2 linked regions of the Homo sapiens genome follow. The protein of the gene in region 1 interacts with the protein of each later gene in a pairwise test. Each region holds a gene or a part of one and is shown on either strand. Other genes may lie near its edges.

Evidence for each region. Proteins that work in one complex are often made in the same cells at the same time.
Region 2: the proteins of HIP1 (region 1) and SPMAP2 interact in binary tests that used the Homo sapiens proteins (3 or more experiments, as listed by UniProt).

What each region holds. Positions count from the first base shown.
Region 1 is NC_000007.14:75,557,310-75,561,058, reverse strand, and holds part of HIP1 (huntingtin-interacting protein 1), read left to right. Parts: intron 1-1,143; coding exon 1,144-1,327; intron 1,328-2,803; coding exon 2,804-2,892; intron 2,893-3,288; coding exon 3,289-3,405; intron 3,406-3,749. UniProt on the Homo sapiens protein: Plays a role in clathrin-mediated endocytosis and trafficking. Involved in regulating AMPA receptor trafficking in the central nervous system in an NMDA-dependent manner. Regulates presynaptic nerve terminal activity.
Region 2 is NC_000019.10:369,352-373,100, reverse strand, and holds part of SPMAP2 (sperm microtubule associated protein 2), read left to right. Parts: intron 1-400; coding exon 401-470; intron 471-930; coding exon of another isoform or gene 931-937; exon of another isoform or gene 938-1,729; intron 1,730-1,778; coding exon 1,779-1,896; intron 1,897-3,749. UniProt on the Homo sapiens protein: May be involved (but not essential) in spermatogenesis.

The DNA.
Region 1 (3,749 bases):
ATTGCTTGAACTTGGGAGGCAGAGGTTGCAGTGAACTGAGATCGTGTCACTGCACTCCAGCCTGGGCGATAGAACAAGACTCTGTCTCAAAAAAAAAAAAAAAAATTGCATCACCTAGACAGTTTTTGGACCACATCCTTAGGGTAGGTTAATTAGTAGAAACAAGCCAGGCGTGGTGGTGTGCACCTGTGATCCCAGCTACTCAGGAGGCTGAGGTAGGAGGATCACTCAAGCCCAGGAGTTTTGAATCCAGCCTGGGCAACATAGCGAGACCTGTGTCTCTAAAACCAAATAAAAACTGGTAGAAATGCTAAATCCAAAAGAACCAGGTCTTCCCGTGTTCTCTGTCATAATGCATTTCCATTTTACATGCCATGAGGACAGCATTTAGGCCAGGCACAGTATCCATGTGATTGATACCCAGAGATGACCTTGGTCCCCACGAGGCTGAGAAGCTGTGGAGAACAAGACCAGACCTTCTCACATGGCGATAAGGAGAGATTGGTTTGCCGGGCACAGTGGCTCACGCCTGTAACCCCAGCACTTTGGAAGGCTCAGGCAGAAGGATCACTTGAGCCCAGCAGTTCAAGACTAGCTTGGGCAACATAGCAAGACCCCATCTCTACAAAAAACTTTTTAAAAATTAGCTGGGCATGGTGGTGCATACCTGTAATGCCAGCTACTTGGGAGGCTGAAGCTAGAGGATCTCTTGAGCCTAGGAGGTTGAGGCTGCAGTGAGCCATAATCACCTCACTGCACTCCAGTCTAGGTGATAGTGATACCCTGTCCCTCCCCTCCCCCAACCGCCAAAAAAAAAAGAGAAGAGACAGCTGTGAGCAATGTTGGTGCTATATTAACAACCGCCCCTCACAGTGGCTGGTCAGGTGACTTCACCCACAGGGACAGCCACTGCTACCCCCAGCCACTCTAAAGAGGACCACAATTCCCCGGCCATCATCCCCTGTTATTGTTGTTGATTGAGGGGCTCCTAATGACCAGATGGTCCAACCCTCCTGGGACGTGGAGAGTTGACTTAGGGGAATCAGGTATTTACTTGGAAGCATGGTAGGACCCGCTTCTCCGGCCCATGCCCGTGACCCGTGGCAGTGGGCGGTTGGCCTCATGACCGGAGTCCCCCCACAGAGCCAGCGGGTTGTGCTGCAGCTGAAGGGCCACGTCAGCGAGCTGGAAGCAGATCTGGCCGAGCAGCAGCACCTGCGGCAGCAGGCGGCCGACGACTGTGAATTCCTGCGGGCAGAACTGGACGAGCTCAGGAGGCAGCGGGAGGACACCGAGAAGGCTCAGCGGAGCCTGTCTGAGATAGAAAGTGAGCGGTGGGTGGGGGCGGGGGCGGGCCCCGGGGGCAGGCGCGGGCAGCAGAGCCCAGCTGGACTCAGGATGCGGCACAGAGGCTGGGTGGGGGAGACCCAGACTGTCTTTCTAGAAACAGCTAGGAATGCCAGCTCTTAGCCTCAGTCCAGAGGGCGGGTTTGAGTCCTGCAGGCACAAAGCTGTGTGCGAGGCACCGCTGAGCACAGAGATGGGAAATACAGAAGACAGCACTGAAGTGCTTGCCCTGGGCAGTGGATACTAAGGGAGAAGGAGAGAGGATTGAGGTCCTAACAAAGAAATTGACATAAAAGCTGAGGGCACAGTGGCACATGCCTGTAATCCTAGCACTCTGGGAGGCCAGGATGGAAGGACTGCTTGAGGCCAGGAGTTCAAGACCAACCCGGGCAACATAGCAAGACCCCATCTCTAGAAAAAATAAAAAAGACTAGCCGGGCATGGTGGCACGTGCCTGTAGTCCCAGCTACTCTTGAGGCTGAGACAGGAGGATCGCTTGAGCCCAGGAATTCAAGGCTGCAGTGAGCTGATTGCACCACTGCACTCCGGCCTCTGCAACAGAGAGCCTTGTCTCTAAAAAATTTCAAATAAATTTGTTAAAAAGCTGAAAGCCCCCATAGAATAAATGCCATGTATGTAAGTGCTGAAGAGGCATGAATCCCTGGCTTGATTATTTATTTGTTTTATTTTTTTGAGGTGGAGTCTCACTCTGTCGCCCAGGCTGGAATGCAGTGGTGTGATCTGGGCTCACTGCAACCTCTACCTCCCAGGTTTAAGGGATTGTCCTGCCTCAGCCTCCCGAGTAGCTGGGATTACAGGCACACACCACCATGTCCAGCTGATTTTTGTATTTATAGTAGAGATGGGGTTTCACCATGTTGGTCAGGCTGGTCTTGAACTCCTGACCTCAGGTGATCCACCCACCTTGGCCTCCCAAAGTGCTGGGATTATAGGCATGAGCCACCTCGCTTGGCCCCTGGCTTGATTTTTAACTAGTTGAATTCTTTTTAAAGATGACTTCCTGGAGAAGTTTCTGTAAGTAGGACTTTCAAGGGAGAAAAGCATATATGCATTCCTAAATCAAAGGAAGATCTTTGGCCGGGCACAGTGGCTCATGCCTATAATCCCACTGAGATGGGAGGATCACCTGAGCCCAGGAGTTTGAAACCAGCCTGGAAAACATAGTGAGACCCTGTCTCTACAAAAATTAGCCGGGTGTGGTGGCGTGTGCCCATGAACCCAGCTACTCAGGAGACTGGGGTGGGAGGATGACTTGAGCCCAAGGAGGTCAAGGCTGCAGTGAACAGTGATTGTGCCACTGCACCCCAGCCTGGGTGACAGAGCAAGACTGTCTCAAAACAAAACAAGGAGGACCTTCTAGGGACCCTGGCTCATTGCAAGGAAGGCAAGGGTCCCTGCTAGGTTAGACTCCTCACCTTGGTCCTTTACAATACAGGGAAAGCTCAAGCCAATGAACAGCGATATAGCAAGCTAAAGGAGAAGTACAGCGAGCTGGTTCAGAACCACGCTGACCTGCTGCGGAAGGTAAGACCCTCAGCCCCTGTCACCATCCTGCAGGCCCTGCACCTCTAGGGAGAGAGCGGCTCAGGCCTGTGGCTTCCCCGGGGCCAGCAACCCCTACATTGATCTCTAAGGCATTGCCGTCATCTCGGGAACCACACCTTTTCAGGCTTCCTTGCCTCTGTGTCTTGGGCTGTGTCCTGGGTGCCAATCCCATGTAGGTCACCCACCTTCTTTATTATTTTGTAAATATTTGAGCATCAAGCATCTGAAGGTGATGGCTCTGTTCCGGCTGTGGGTAGGAAAGTGATTCCTGTGTCTGACTCTAGGGCACGCACAGCCTGAGTATGATTGTCCTAGAAGGAGGATGTCCTCTAAGCCTGGGATCTCCTGGTTCAAGACACTGTTCTTCTTTTGCAGAATGCAGAGGTGACCAAACAGGTGTCCATGGCCAGACAAGCCCAGGTAGATTTGGAACGAGAGAAAAAAGAGCTGGAGGATTCGTTGGAGCGCATCAGTGACCAGGGCCAGCGGAAGGTGAGTGGGACGAGGAGCACTCGGGAAATGAGGGAGGGGGCTGTTGAGTTGGTGGCGGGGGCTTTGTGGCCTTCTGCTCCATGGGCAGTTCTGTGGGTCGGTTGGCATCACACAGCAGGGAGCACACCATGGTGGCCACACAGAACAGCAAAACACCGTCACCAGTGCATACACGAAGTAATGGAAGGACCCAAGTTGCCTGGGGTTAATCAACAAAGGCTTTCCAAGGATGAGGCTGGTGGAGAGTTTGAGGAAAGGAAAACACATGGGTGGCAGAGAGAGAGGGATGAGCGTTTTTTTTTGTTTGTTTGTTTTGTTTGTTTGTTTTTTGAGACGGCAGTAAT
Region 2 (3,749 bases), on another chromosome or scaffold:
GTGCTGTTCTTGACTTTAGACCTACAGTCATCACTAGGCCCCTGGAAACCCCAGGCTTGTACTAACTTCAGAACAAAACCCATTTTCCCAGCCTGTGGGTCCCTGGATCTGTATTGAGCCCCGTTGAGGAGCCACGGTGCTGGGCTGCTGTTCCAGCCCTGCCACTCCCATCCGGTGTCCGAGAAAGGACCTTCAAGCCTCTGAGCCCATTGTCCCTAAATCAGGGACAGCAAATCTTCTCTCTGCAGGGTGTCTGGCCCCCAGTTGTCTCTGCCCACAGTTCTTCCAATTCAGCCTCCTGCCCAAGCTCATGAAAAGCTGAATTCCGCATGCAGAAGCCCCTGGGAACTGCAGGGTGTTGACACTGGGGTTCACTGACTCCGTTTCCCATTTTGCATAGCGGTGTCCCGCCGCGTGGAGGAACTGTCTCGGCCCAAGAGATTCTACCTGGAATATTACAACAACAACAGGTGGGGGAAGGAGGGCTGGGTGGCTACTCAGAAGGCAGAGTTTGGCAGAAATGCCTTATTCTCGCCTGACAGGATGCTGTGTGGGAAAGGGTCCAGGTCCTAGCCCTAGACAGCTGGTGTTCAGACGGGGCTGGCCTGCTTCCCAGCCCACATCCCCAGCAGGCTGCTTCCCAGTCCACATCCCCAGCAGGCTGCTTGGCCCCGTGCAACTGCATTGCCAGCTGTGGAATGGTGGTGGAGGGCACCCGTGAACGGGGATTTGCACAGCGCCTGACACAGTGCGTGCTCAGATGTTATCACCATTGTGACTGTATTTTGTTTACTCAAAAAAGGTGGAAATTCTAAGACACATTAGTATTTTATGTACAAAATTCTTTCTTACCACTTACAGCCCCTGTGCTTGTTAAAAGTGATCTTTAGTTATTTAGACACAACATATAATTACCCATCTTTTATGCAGCGTATGAAGGAAAGCACAGCTGAAGTAGACAGCGGAAGTGTGTCCAACTGTTTTGAACCACTTCTGACACAGACGTTGATGTGGGTGTCGCACACACTGTCCTCACGCCTCTGTGCACTTTTTAACGCCAAATCATACTGTGACCTGAAGACAATTTAAACTGTAATTAAACTTAACTCCTGTAGAAGCAGCAGTGCAGATCACGTGAACAGCACACACAGATGCAGCCAGATGTAGCCAGGACACTTCCGCCATCTGGCTGGCAGCACTCGTAAGCTGCATCCTAACCTCAGACCTGTTCAATGTGGAGACCTTGCCTTAGAATCAATGAAATGCGGCTTTATTTCCGAGCAGAGGCATAGCTGAGACCTGATTTCAGAAGGCACAGCCCCGGGAGCTCAGCTGTCCTTCGCTTTCCCCAGCTTTGCAACCTCAGGACAGACACTTTCATCCCTTGGGTCCAAGTGCTCACGCCAGGCTCTTGATGATGGGGGTGTGTAGAGAAGGCCTGGGAGGAGCTGCCGTCCCAGAAGGGAATGGAGAAGGCCTGGACCTGAGGGTGGACGTTGCACATTGAGCAGAGACAACCCTGGGAGATGGTAGCTCTGTACTTGAGAACTCTTAGAAATTCTTTACGAATCCCTGTTTGGAGACGCTTTCAAAACTCACCACTCTCCCAGGCTCTCTTAACCCCAGAAACAGAGGAGGAGCTGGGAAAGACAGACAGACACATATGGAGGAGCTGGGAAAGACAGACAGACACATACACACACACACACACACACACACACACACACACACCCCCACCCCCGGCCGAGCTGCTGGTCTAAAATGGGGACCTCCCCCAGGACGACTCCTGTCTGGCCCATTCCTCGGTCCTCCCTGGAATACAGAGCGTCGAGTCGCCTGAAGGAACTGGCCGCCCCGAAGATTCGTGATAACTTCTGGAGCATGCCCATGTCTGAGGTGGGTGCCCCGTGCCCCCCGCGACTCACCCCCGCCAGGCGGGCTGGGACCCGGCAGAGAGTGAAAGAGGCTTTGCGTTTGGGAGTCAGGGGAGGAGGAGAAGCTGCACAGGGCGGCTGCCTTTGTCTGGGAGCAGCTTTCTTTTGATCTCTCACTGTCTTCAGAGCCGCCCAGGGGTCATCCTTCCCTGCGCTTCAGTCCGGGTGGATCCCAAAGCTTCCAGCTCACACTCAGGAATTAGAACAGTCTTATCTCAGGTGTTCAGAAAGCGCTCATCTCTCGCCCCAGCTCAGGCCGGACTCCTGGCCACCGGCAACCACTGACCTCGCTCTACGCCCTGTACCTTTTGCTTTTCCGAAAGTCTGAACCCCGCAGCCTGCGGGCTTGACCCGGCTTCTGCCGCCCCCCGCCCTGCATCTGAGACTCTCGCGTGCGTCGGTAGTTTATTCCTTGTCGTCGCCGGTTCAATTCCAGAATTTGCCGATCCAGGCACCCACTGAAGGGTATTTGGGTGGCTTCCAGTTTAGGACTGTTACGATAAAACTGATGTGAATACGCCGGGCGCGGTGGCTCACGCCTGTCATCCCAGCACTTTGGAAGGCTGAGGCGGGTGGATCACGAGGTCAGCAGATCGAGACCATCCTGGCTAACATGGTGAAACCCTGTCTCTACTAAAAATACAAAAAAAAAAAAAAATTAGCCGGGGGTGGTGGCGGGCGCCTGTAGTCCCAACTACTCCGGAGGCTGAGGCAGGAGAATCGCTTGAACCCGGGAGGCGGAGCTTGCAGTGAGCCGAGATCGCGCCACTGCCCTCCAGCCTGGGCGACAGAGCGAGACTCCGCCTCAAAAAAAAAAAACAAAACTGTGAATATCTGTATACAGCTTTTTGTGGAGGCGTAAGTTTCCATATCTCCAGGGTAATACCCAGAATTGGAATTTCTCAGTTACTGGGTATATGTAACTTTTAAAAAACTGACCAATGGTTGTCCAAAGTGACGGCGCCGTCTTGCATTCTCTGGGCCGGGATTGAGCTCAGGCTCTCCCCATCCTGGCCGCCGTCTTGCATTCTCTGTGTGGGGATTGCGCTCAGGCGCTCCCCATCCTGGCCACCATCTTGCATTGTCTGGGCCGGGAGTGGGAGCCCAGGTGCGCCGTATCCTGGCCATCTTGCATTCTTTGGGTGGGAAGTGGGAGCTCAGGCTGTCCCTGTTGTCAGGCCTCTGAGCCCAAGCCAAGCCGTCGCATCCCCTGTGACTTGCACGTATACATCCAGATGGCCTGAAGTAACTGAAGATCCACAAAAGAAGTAAAAATAGCCTTAACTGATGATATTCCACTATTGTGATTTGTTTTTGCCCCACCCTAAGTGATCAAGGTACTTTGTAATGTCCCCCACCCTTAAGAAGGTTCTTTGCGAGATCCACCCCTGCCCGCAAAACATTGCTCTTAACTTCACCACCTATCCCAAAACCTATAAGAACAATTGATAATCCACCACCCTTTGCTGACTCTCTTTTCGGACTCAGCCCGCCTGCACCAGGCGATTAAAAGCTTTTATTGCTCACACAAAGCCTGTTTAGGCTTCTTCACACGGATGTGCCTGAAACCCATCCTGGCCACCATCTTGCATTCTCCGGGTGGGGAGAGGGAGCTCAGGCTCTTCCCCATCTTGGCCACCGTCTTGCATTCTCCAAGCAGGGAATGAACTGAGGCGATCCCCTTCCTGGTTGCCATCTTGCATTCTCTGGGAGGGGAGTGAGCTCTGGTGTGCCCCGTCGTGGCCTCCATCTTGCATTCTCCGGGCGGGGAGTGGAAGCTCAGGCCTGCCTCATCCTGGCCGCCGTCTTGCATTC